Regions from separate parts of the Homo sapiens genome. Here region 1 is linked to region 2. The links come from fine-mapping of genetic effects on gene expression. Tissue or cell type: prefrontal cortex. Region 2 holds a variant in brackets; the other region holds the start of a gene. All regions are shown on one strand. Distances are from middle to middle.

Region 1 (5,387 bases), 22 kb before region 2:
ACTACTGCCAAATAGTGATATTTTAATCCCATCAGGAATAGAGAACAGCAAATTGTTCTTTCTCTCATGACTTGAGCTTATTCTGTTGACCTGTAGTTCTGCAATACTGGAGAAGCTCGAAATAGAAAATCCTGTGTATATTTATGACATTTGATTCCCTCCAGGGAAATAAACTTATTTCCCTTGTTTAATATTTCTTAGTGAATTATTAACGATTGGTTGTTTCTCAGTGATGGCTTTCTCTAGCTCTATGGATACTCCCTCTCAGTGATGTGAAGACAAATAAAATACTAATAGAAAAAACCACATTTAAATAATGCAAGAATCTTCAAGTACCATAATGCTGGAGCAATATTAGCTATGGCAACATACTTTCTCAGGCAGGAATTCATTCAGTTGAGTTTTATAAACACTTATTTGGAGACCGCTATGTGGTAAGCAACATGATAGACACTGAAAGTATGAAGTTTAAAAGGACATAGAATGTCCTCAAGCATCTCAGTCTTTTCGTAAACTAGCCTAGGTGCAGACTATTCTGTTTTCGAAGACTTGTATTCATCTATTCATTTATTTAACAAATACTTATTAAATATCTACTAAGTGCCAATTTTTCAGCTATATCTTGGGAATATAATCACAACTCCTGAAGGTCAGGGAGCTCCTAGTTCCCCACAGGAGATTTCATAAATTAAAATGCCCTTGTGTTTTGGGACTAAAGAATGTGACGGGGAAAGAAATCATTATCTTCTGAAGTATTATTACACACCAGGCACATTTAGAAGGACATTGCTAACCATGGTTTCTAAATATCTTCTCACTCTACTCCTGCTTATTCTTTTTCACCTTGTTTTATTTTTCTTCATCTTCACCTGATGTCATCACTGCTCCATCCCCAGCTCTGAGAGGTAGCTGGCACGTAGCTGGTTACTGGTAGTCATTGCATGAATAAACCTAAAAGATAGGAATTCTGGTTTTACAAAAGAGACCAAGACTTATAACTTAAATGATTTACTGCTCATGATTGTGCAACTTTTAAGTCACAAATCCGGGATTTAAACCTAGGTGTGAAGGCAAAGCCCATGTTCCTTCTGCAAGCGCTCCTCTAAATGTATGTCTTCACAGAGCTATTAACCCCTCTTTTTTTGTTTAACACGGTTATGTAAAAAGAAAAAAAAACTGAGCTGGCAGTTACAGAAAAGTTATAGCTTTCAAGAGCCTGACAGTCTAGTTAGGAAGCAAAATATCTAGAAATCCAACAAGTGCAAAGCAGTGTCTAGATAAGGAGGGAAACTCACAGGCAGTAATAGCAGAGGAGGGTGAGCTCGGCCTGGTGCTGGGCTGATGAGCACTTTGACTTGGCAGGAGGTCTGTTGTCTGTGGAACAAGATAAGTAAATTGCTTGTACAACCCTTCTCTCCAATCATTGAATCTGAATCCCTGTTACCATTTAATGCCTGAAAATAGTAGATTCTTTTACCTTTTAGCATAGAGGAGATGGTGGAAGGTGACAGAAGAAAGGCACATTTTGAAGGGAGTGTGGAGAGTTTGTGGGCTAAGAGATGAAGAGGTAGGAAGCTGGCATGGCGGCTCATACGTGTAATCCCAGTGCTTTGGGAGGCAGAGCCCAGCTGATAGCTTGAGGCCAGGAGTTGGAGACCAGTCTGGACAACATAGTGAGATCCCATCTCTTAAAAAAAAAAAAAATAGCGGAGCGTGCTGGCGCACGACCAAAGCCCTAGCTACTCTGGAGGCTAAGGTGGGAGGACTACTTGAGTCCAGGAGTTCGACGTTACAATGAGCTATCAGCATGCCACTGCACTTTAGCCTGAGTGACAGAGCCAGAGACTGTCTCTGAAAAGAAGAAGAAAAGATAGAGAAAGGCACTTGGAGGAATTGAGATTGTTTTCCGTAGGAAAGAGAAAAGGTATGGGGGTGGGAGACGATGAGGTGAGGAGCTAACTTCAAGAAATCTCATCCAGAAGTTAGTGGAGTGCCCTTAACACTTAATTGGGAAATGTCTTCAGTTTCCTGCACTTGAAGGATTGTTGTCTCTTCCTGGAAGAGAGGATTTAGATTTATTCTCCTGGGGAACAAACGATGGAATCAAAGGCTAAAAGCCTGGCGGGAATACATTTCTACTCAATACAAAGAATTTAAAAGGAGCTACACGCACTGCCTCAGGCGGTGGTGAGCCTGTTTCAAACAGAGGCAGGCTGCTTCCTGAGGAACCAGCCCCTCGGGGCTTGACGCCCTGATCCCGGGTCGCTGGCCGGGGGCGGAGACGGGGATAGCGAGCTGAGTGTGCGAGCGCCAGGGGTTCCAGCTGCACGTCCCAGGCTCTCCAGCGCGCGGCAGGCCGGGGCGGGACGAGGAGAGCTGCGGGGACAACGCCTGTGGCTGGGTCCGGAGGTGCGGGTGCGGCGCGGGACAAGCGGGCAGCATGCTCAGGGCGGTCGGGAGCCTACTGCGCCTTGGCCGCGGGCTAACAGTCCGCTGCGGCCCCGGGGCGCCTCTCGAGGCCACGCGACGGCCCGCACCGGCTCTTCCGCCCCGGGGTCTCCCCTGCTACTCCAGCGGCGGGGCCCCCAGCAATTCTGGGCCCCAAGGTCACGGTGAGCCAGGGCTCCGACGGGGAGGTCCTGGGAGGGAGGAGGTTGCGGGAGGGCAGCGAGGGGCCGGCCCGGGAGTCGGCTTGAGGGCGCGCTGATCCTCTGTGCCGGTGCGTCAGTTCCCGCGTCCATCTGGGTTGCTTTCGCTGCAGGGGAGATTCACCGAGTCCCCACGCAGCGCAGGCCTTCGCAGTTCGACAAGAAAATCCTGCTGTGGACAGGGCGTTTCAAATCGATGGAGGAGATCCCGCCTCGGATCCCGTAAGTGTGGCGACCGCCGCGCGAAGGAGAGTCGGTCCCCGGCCGCAAGGGTGCGGGGTGACCCACCTTCCGACCGCGGCCACCTAGGAGCGAAAGCGGCCGCAGTGCCAACACTTCGCAATATCACCCACCACACACGGAGTTTACCCACACACACACCCCGCCTCCAGTGCGGTGTGTCAAGAGTCAATTAAGCTTACAGGGAGATTGCAGAAGGTGGGTGAAAACTGAGAGGTTCAGGGGACACTTCCAGCACCGCCCAGATTGCCGGTCCCCAGCAAGCTCCGAACTGGGAGGCAGTGGGGCTCTTGTGCCAAACAGGCCACGGTCCTCGCGAGCATCCGGATGGCTGCCGGGACGCCAGACCGCAATCCAGGCTTTGGCCGGGGGCGTCCCCCTACCCCACCCAAGGAAGGGGTTCTCTGATCTTGGCTTGCGGGGCGGCTGTGGCGGGGGGGTCTCTGGAAAAAAGACGCATCCATGCGGCCTCCTCTTCTGGGGCAGGAGACGCCTGGCGGACGTGTTTCTGCAGCCCTCTAGGCTCCGGGTTTACTCAGGGTGGGACGCGCGGGAGTGTCAGCACTGTGGGCCTCTTCAGCATGCTAAACCCACCAAGACAGATGATAAAACTCAAACTAATAACTCCCCCTCTAAGGTAATGTAACCTGTAAAATAAATGCTAATAATAAGTAAATGTAACCTGTAAAAAAATCTTTCCAAAGTTTCTGTTTCTGCCAAGCCCAAAAACCTTCGCAGCATTTTTACAAGGGATTGGGTAAAAAAGAGAGGGACGGAAACTAAAAATAAAATCAATCTACTACTTTTTAAGTTTATCTTTTAAAAATAAAAGACTAAAACCATAACGTGAAAGAAGGATTTTAGATATTCTGTATATTTGTACAATGTAATGAATGCCTATTAGAATGGATAATGGAAACTGGGCCTATATTTCTGTTTTTCACATGGTGCCTGCCATGTTATTGTTTATAAACAATTGCAGTTTATCAGTTACCAAAGCATCTCAGATAGCTAGGGGGTGGGGTGGGAGAACATGGCAGGAAATGTACACTCAGTAATGAATTCTGAAGCATTTTCGTTCTTTTATTGGAGCAAGTCACCAAATGAGAAATGGACATGGAATTTGAAATAACACTGCATTTGAATCCGTTTTCAGTATTTATTCAACTACAGAGGCACTTTCTAAGATTATTTTTCCTCGAGATCTATAGACTCCAAACTACAGACTTAGCTGAAAGCAAAAGTTAGCCTCAGAAAAGTCTTTATCATCATAAGCTCTGGTTATCAAATTTTAATTGATGCCTGAAAATTTAATACTATAAATGCCAAAGAAGTAAAAAAAAAAAAAAAAATTAAAATAAGTAAGCCACCACCCTCAATTGGTTTGAATTTTTATTTCTAGTGGCCTAACCAAGTAATCAAGAGTGTAAAGAACCAACATTATTGCATATTGTTTGTCAAGAAAACCTATGCCCAGTATTGCATTTAACATAGCTGTATTTGTGAACAGACTCATTTTACAGAAATAATGTAATTTCCCCAAGATCATAGTCAAAAGATGTATTATAAACAGGAGCATTTCACTAAGAACAGGATGCCTATAAAAAGCATTGCAGTTTTGCATTGGAAACATAAAAGTATTTGAGTATTTTTCATTTTATTATTTTTCTATAACTTTTTAAGCATTACTATTTAAGAGAGATATTCCTGTTAAGCTAAGTGTCACACTTACAATGTAAACAGCTTTTACCTTTTAATGGACATATAATGAACAAGTGACCTATAATTTTTGTATCATACACTAATTGTGTTTAATAATAACTGTACTTTGTCTTGTTTTTCTCAGTGCTAAACTAATTTGTTATAATAGATTAAAGCCAAATGGCTGGGTAAAAAAGATCAGAGCTTCTAGGTTCCATCTGGAACAAAAGTTAGCAGCAAATATAATCTAATAATTTCTCCATACTCACTAATTGGACCTGTTTGCAACTAACATCTTAAAACTTACATCACTCTGCCTAAAATCTAAAGAAAATAGGCTAGATAGGAGTTTTCTGTAGTCTTTTAACCAGTGGAAAATTTAAAAAGTTTTCTGTTTTTAAGAGAAAATGCAACTTTGTCTTTCTGGATTTTTTTTTTCAATGTAACTACACTCTATTTAAACTGCACATAGAGAGGAAAGAATACCAATGAATATATTATAATGAATGAAATTCTTTAAATATGCATATTTATAATCTGCCACTTCATATCATTGAAAATTGTTAAAGTTTATTTCAACGTAAAAGTCCCACAGGCATGATGCCTTTTGTATTACTACTTTGTAAGTAGTATTATTAAAATCTTGGACAACATGCATAAAACTATGAATGAATATTTAGAATTTAAGTATATCAAATTTCAGTATAATAATAACATTAAAATGAAGGTCTCTTTTATCTTTTTCCTCGGCAAATTATTGTGATTTTGATCACGTTTAACAAAAAATTATTGCAAAAG
Region 2 (5,387 bases):
AAACAGACACAACAAGCAGTGGAAAAGAATAGAGAGCCCAGAAATAAACCCACATATCTATATGGTCAATTGATTTTTGACAAAGGTGTCAAGAACACCCAATGGAGAGAGTCTTTCAGTAAATGGTGTTGGAAAAACTGGACATCCACATGCAAAAGAATGAAATAAGACCTTCATCTCACACTATGTAGAAAAATCAACTTGAAATGGATTAAAAACTTAAACATAAGACCTGAGACTGTAAAACTAGTAGAATAAAACAGAGAAAAGCTCTATGACATTGGTATGGGCAATGATTTTTTGGATAAGAACTCCGAAGCACAAGCAACAAAAGAAAAAAGACAAATGTGATTACTTATGAGAGAGGAGATAAAAAGAGACTAGCTAGGCAGATAGTTAAGGCAAAAAGTTCTTGGCAGAACTTCCCTTCTAACAAAAAGCAGCCAAAGAAATCACTTTTTTACTAACAAAGAGCAGCCTGGAAGATCGGGCTGCAAACAGTGATAAGGAAGCTGGAAGCTTGCATGCGGGGAATGTCTGCAACTGCACCGGTAGAAAGGGGTACCTGGGGCCACGCATGTCCACCATGGGGGCTCCACCTCCCCCTTTTTTTTAGCACGTGCACAGTAGGAAAGCAATGTGGAGTCACTCAGGCAAAGGACCCCCAGCATAATAAAAGGTTGGGGTGGGGGATGCCAGAGATTCACATTCTATGCAGATAGCATACCTGGTCCTAACCAGTTTTTTGTGCCCTATGAGATAAGATACTGCCTCCCCACTAACTCACTTATAAAACCCTTGCATTTCACTGCTGAATGGCAACCCTTTTGTGACCGCTCTCTGCAACAAACAGTTGTTCTCTTTTGTCTATTAAACGTCTGCTTCTGCTCTGACCTCACCCTTGGCGTGTGTGCGTCCTTGATTTACTCGGCCATGAGACCAAGAACTTCAGATGCCACCCCAGGTAATGAGGCCATTTCACTTCAAACTAAAAAAAAAACTATCATAGCAAAGAAAACAATCAATAGAGTGAAGAGAAAGCCCATGGATTAGGAGAAAATATGTGCAAATTATATATGTGATACAGAGTTTCTATCCAAAATATATTAGAAACTCAACTCAATAGCAGGAAAAATAAATTACCCAATTAAAAAATGGACAAAGGACCTGATAGACACTTATCCAAAGAAGACATACAAATGGCCAATAGATATATGAAAAAAATGCTTAAAATCATTGATCATAGGGAAATACAAATTAAAATTATAATGATACATTACCTCACATCTGTCAGAATGGCTATTATCAAAAAGATGAAAGATAAGTATTGGTGAGGATGTGGAGAAAAGGCACCTTTTGTACACTGTTGGTAGAATGGAAATATAGCTATTATAGAAAAAAGTACAGACATTCGTCAAAAAATTTCAAATAGAATTACCATATAATCCAGCAATCCCACTTCTGGATATATATCCTAAGGACTTGAAATCAGTATGTCAAAGTGATATCTGCACTTGCATGTTCATTGCAGCATTATTCACAATGGCCATGATATGAAAGCAACCTAATTGCCCATCAAGGAGGAATGAATAAAGAAAATGTGGTAAAATGGAATACTATTCATCCAACAAAAAGAGGAAATTCTGCCATTTACAACATGACTGAATCTGGAGGACATTATGCTGGGTGAAATAAGCCAGGAACAAAAAGACAAAAACTGTGTGATCTCACTTATATGTAGAATCTAAACAACTCAAACTCATAGAAGTAGAGAGTAGAATGAAGGTTACCAGATTGGGGGATATGGAGGGGATGAGGAATGGGGAGACAGTCAAAGGGTACAAAGTTGTCAGTAACATATGGAATAGGTTTTAAAGATCCATTGCACAGCATGCTGACTATAGTTAGTAACCATGTATTGTGTATTTCAAAATTGCTAAAAGAGATTTTAGCCAGGCACGGTGGCTCACGCCTGTAATCCCAACACTTTGGGAGACTGAGGTGGGGTGGGCGGATTGCTTGAGGCCAGGAGTTCTAGACCAGCCTGGGCAATATGGCGAAACCCCATCTCTACTAAAAATACAAAAAACTAGCCGGGCATGGTGGTGCACGCCTGTCATCCCAGCTACTTGGGAGGCTGAGGCATGAGAATTGCTTGAACCTGGGTGATGGAGGTTGCAGTGAGCCAAGATCATGCCACTGCACTCCAGCCTGGGTGACGGAGTGAGACTCTATCTTGAGGAGGGAAAAAAAAAGAGTAGATTTTAAATGTTCTCATCATAAAAAAGGGTAAGTAAGGTGACAGATATGTTAATTAGCTTGATTTTTATCATGTCATGATGCAAATATATTTAAAAAACACAATATACCCCATAAATATATACCATTATTTCTCAATTTAAAATAAAAAATACATTCATGAAAGAAAAAAAGTCTAAACAAATGGAAAAGCAAAAAAAAATTTAAAACAATTACCATGTTAAACTAGTATTTCTGAATCTATAGTCACTGAGCTAACTACAATATCATCGTGATTAAATAAGATTAAAATCTTTTTAGTTTTTGAAATGTTGCTTATTATACTTTAAAAACGCATTTGTACAGCTGATTATTTAAAACTGGAATTAAATATCAATTAGTGGAGTTTGACATCTTTCAAAACATAGACTCTAGAGAGAACAATAAAAAGGGGTGCTTGTTCATTTAAAAAAAAAAAAAGGATTTTCCCCCTTTTAAAGTATAATTTCTATCCCAACAAAAAACTTAGTGGCAAATCCCCAACACTAGGACAGATTTGTCAGTTTTACGGGTACAACTGGAATACCCCTTCCTTACATAACAGAATATTATTCATATAAGTTGTCTTCAACTTTCACACAGAAAGTGTGATAGCTTTAAAAGAAATTTACCTTAATGTACGTGCTTCAAAATACAATATTGAAGGATTATCCTTTGAAAAATTTTAAATCCCACTCTAAGATGCAAGCAGGAATAGATGTATAGATGTTCACTTGAATACAGTAAGCTGTGACAATTACTGAGCTAGAAAGCCAATATTTTAAATTTTTATACCAATAGGATTTTCCTATTTGTTGAACTTTTTAAATTGGCGTCTTCTCTTCATGGTGTCTTAGGGCACAGTCAGAAATAAAATAAAGTAGGTAGGTTCAAGTAGTGCTTTCAAAGATGTGAGAGTTTTAAAACACACCAATATTTAACTCTTATTTTTGTGTGTCTTATTCTGTTAGGAGTATATAAAAAATAGGCTGTGGTTAGTACAACAGAAATCAGTATCAAATGAAGGAGAATTGTGTTATCTAATAGAGGGATTTCCAAAAATGACTTCTACTTTGGGTTAAATATGTTTATGTAAAAAAGAACTCTCTCTCCATAGTCAAGACTTTTAGATGTCTAT[T/C]ATCGGTAGAAACTTGTGGTTCTTTATACTCCTGTTTACATTTCATGAGGTAGTTCATACATGTATTTTCAAGTGTAATGGGTAATGGCCAGTGTATTTGTTAAAAACTATACATATCACATGTTTATGTAGGTACGAATGTATATTCTATATACACATGTGTATTCTAATATATTTCTGAGGCGATGTTAATGAATTACCACATGCACAGGAAAAATAATAACTGTCATCTGACCCATAAATCTGCATTTGTGTTTTAGTATGTGTATATAAAAAGTTATTTACCCAGTAATGTTATTTGACATCAAATTGCAACAAATAAAATTTCTTGGTGCTAGTGGTTTGCATGATAAACACAAGTTTTTTGTGTATTTATGACCAGCACTTGGATTGGGTGAAAAGATAGTTACCCCTGTGGTTCAAGAAGGGGGAAAATAAAAGACCTGATTGTTTCATAAAAAGCATAAAACATTAATACACAAAGTAGATTCTTTTATTCTGGAATTGTGACTGAAGGACAGTCATGGGGATTAAGAACAATGCTTTAAAAAAATCTTGCTTCCCTTCAGTTAAATCATTTCCTTAACTGTTTCCTGTCACCGCTTTTTTGTTGTTTTTTGTTTGTTTTTTAACAGTAAATCCCAGAACAAAGGTTTAATAATCTTCTTTTCCATCAGCTGACTGCTTTTTTGGATGGTAGGCATTCTCTGGTGCATTGGTACAGAAGACTTCACCATGGAAGCTCATGCTTGATCTTTCAATATGATCATGATATTTTTCCTCTTGGCATAATATGGCTGCTGTGTCCTCATCATTCAATGAAAAAGTCTGTCATTTCTACCACAAAGACCAAAGGGAAAATATTTTCAAATAAGTTTCAACTATTTTGTTAAAATTCACTTAACAAGTACTCTGAAAATGTCAACTATTGTTCTGTACTTTTAGCACATAAATGTACAAATTCTCATCTGAACCTTAAAAAAAAAGATGTAATTCTAAATTTCTATGCACAAAATAATGTAAAAAACATATAAAACACAAAAAAATCGTCAGAACTATATGGAAAATTCAAAATCCACCAATCATCTTGGGAGATTTTAACACACCTCTCTTAGAAACTGGCGAGTTAGAAACTGATGAATTAAGCAGACTAGTATGTAAAAGACATGAATCAATTAACAAAACACATTCTTTTCTTACACACATGGGCCATTTCACTAAAACCAACACATATCAGATCATAAAGCAAGTATCAACGAATTTCAAACTCATGTAATCACATCACAACTTAGAAGTTAGTGGCATATTTTTAAGGTCTGAAATTTAAAAGTACATTTCTTTTTTTTTTATTATACTTTAAGTTTCAGGGTACATGTGCACAATGTGCAGGTTAGTTACATATGTATACATGTGCCATGTTGGTGTGCTGCACCCATTAACTCGTCATTTAGCATTAGGTATATCTCCTAAAGCTATCCCTCCCCCCTCCCCCAACCCCACAACAGTCCCCAGAGTGTGATGTTCCCCTTCCTGTGTCCATGTGTTCTCATTGTTCAATTCCCACCTATGAGTGAGAAGATGCGGCATTTGGTTTTTTGTTCTTGCGATAGCTTACTGAGAAGGATGATTTCCAATTTCATCCATGTCCCTACAAAGGACATGAACTCATCATTTTTTATGGCTGCATAGTATTCCATGGTGTATATGTGCCACATTTTCTTAATCCAGTCTATCATTGTTGGACATTTGGGTTGATTCCAAGTCTTTGCTATCGTGAATAGTGCTGCAATAAACATATGTGTGCATGTGTCTTTATAGCAGCATGATTTATATTCCTTTGGGTATATACCCAGTAATGGGATGGCTGGGTCAAATGGTATTTCTAGTTCTAGATCACTGAGGAATCGCCAAACTGACTTCCACAATGCTTGAACTAGTTTACAGTCCCACCAACAGTGTAAAAGTGTTCCTA

Alleles and levels. Positions count from the first base shown, and alleles are read on the strand shown. Sizes are in standard deviations (SD) of each study's normalised expression.
For the expression in prefrontal cortex of the gene that starts at base 2,298 in region 1, allele T in region 2 goes with a lower level than allele C (moderate effect, 0.57 SD a copy in CommonMind).

What was found. PIP is the estimated chance that this variant, and not a neighbour inherited with it, causes the effect.
Region 1: it holds the start of FAM162B, and the variant in region 2 is the best candidate, but not a certain one, in a credible set for the expression of FAM162B in prefrontal cortex (CommonMind, PIP 0.87).

The regions. Positions count from the first base shown.
Region 1 is chr6:116,762,630-116,768,016 of GRCh38, reverse strand. It overlaps FAM162B (family with sequence similarity 162 member B), which reads left to right and starts at 2,298. Exons shown (of 4, transcript NM_001085480.3): 1 at 2,298-2,612; 2 at 2,762-2,870. The coding sequence starts at 2,441. It overlaps LOC105377963 (a long non-coding RNA gene), which reads right to left and starts at 1,649. Exons shown (of 3, transcript XR_942910.3): 1 at 1,478-1,649; 2 at 1,296-1,374; 3 at 1-951. RefSeq lists an enhancer at 2,763-3,277.
Region 2 is chr6:116,740,371-116,745,757 of GRCh38, reverse strand. It overlaps KPNA5 (karyopherin subunit alpha 5), which reads right to left. Exons shown (of 14, transcript NM_001366306.2): 14 at 3,891-5,387. Among named protein-coding and RNA genes, the nearest start is that of FAM162B, 23 kb to the left of the region's middle. The variant T/C (reference allele first, on the strand shown) is at 3,416.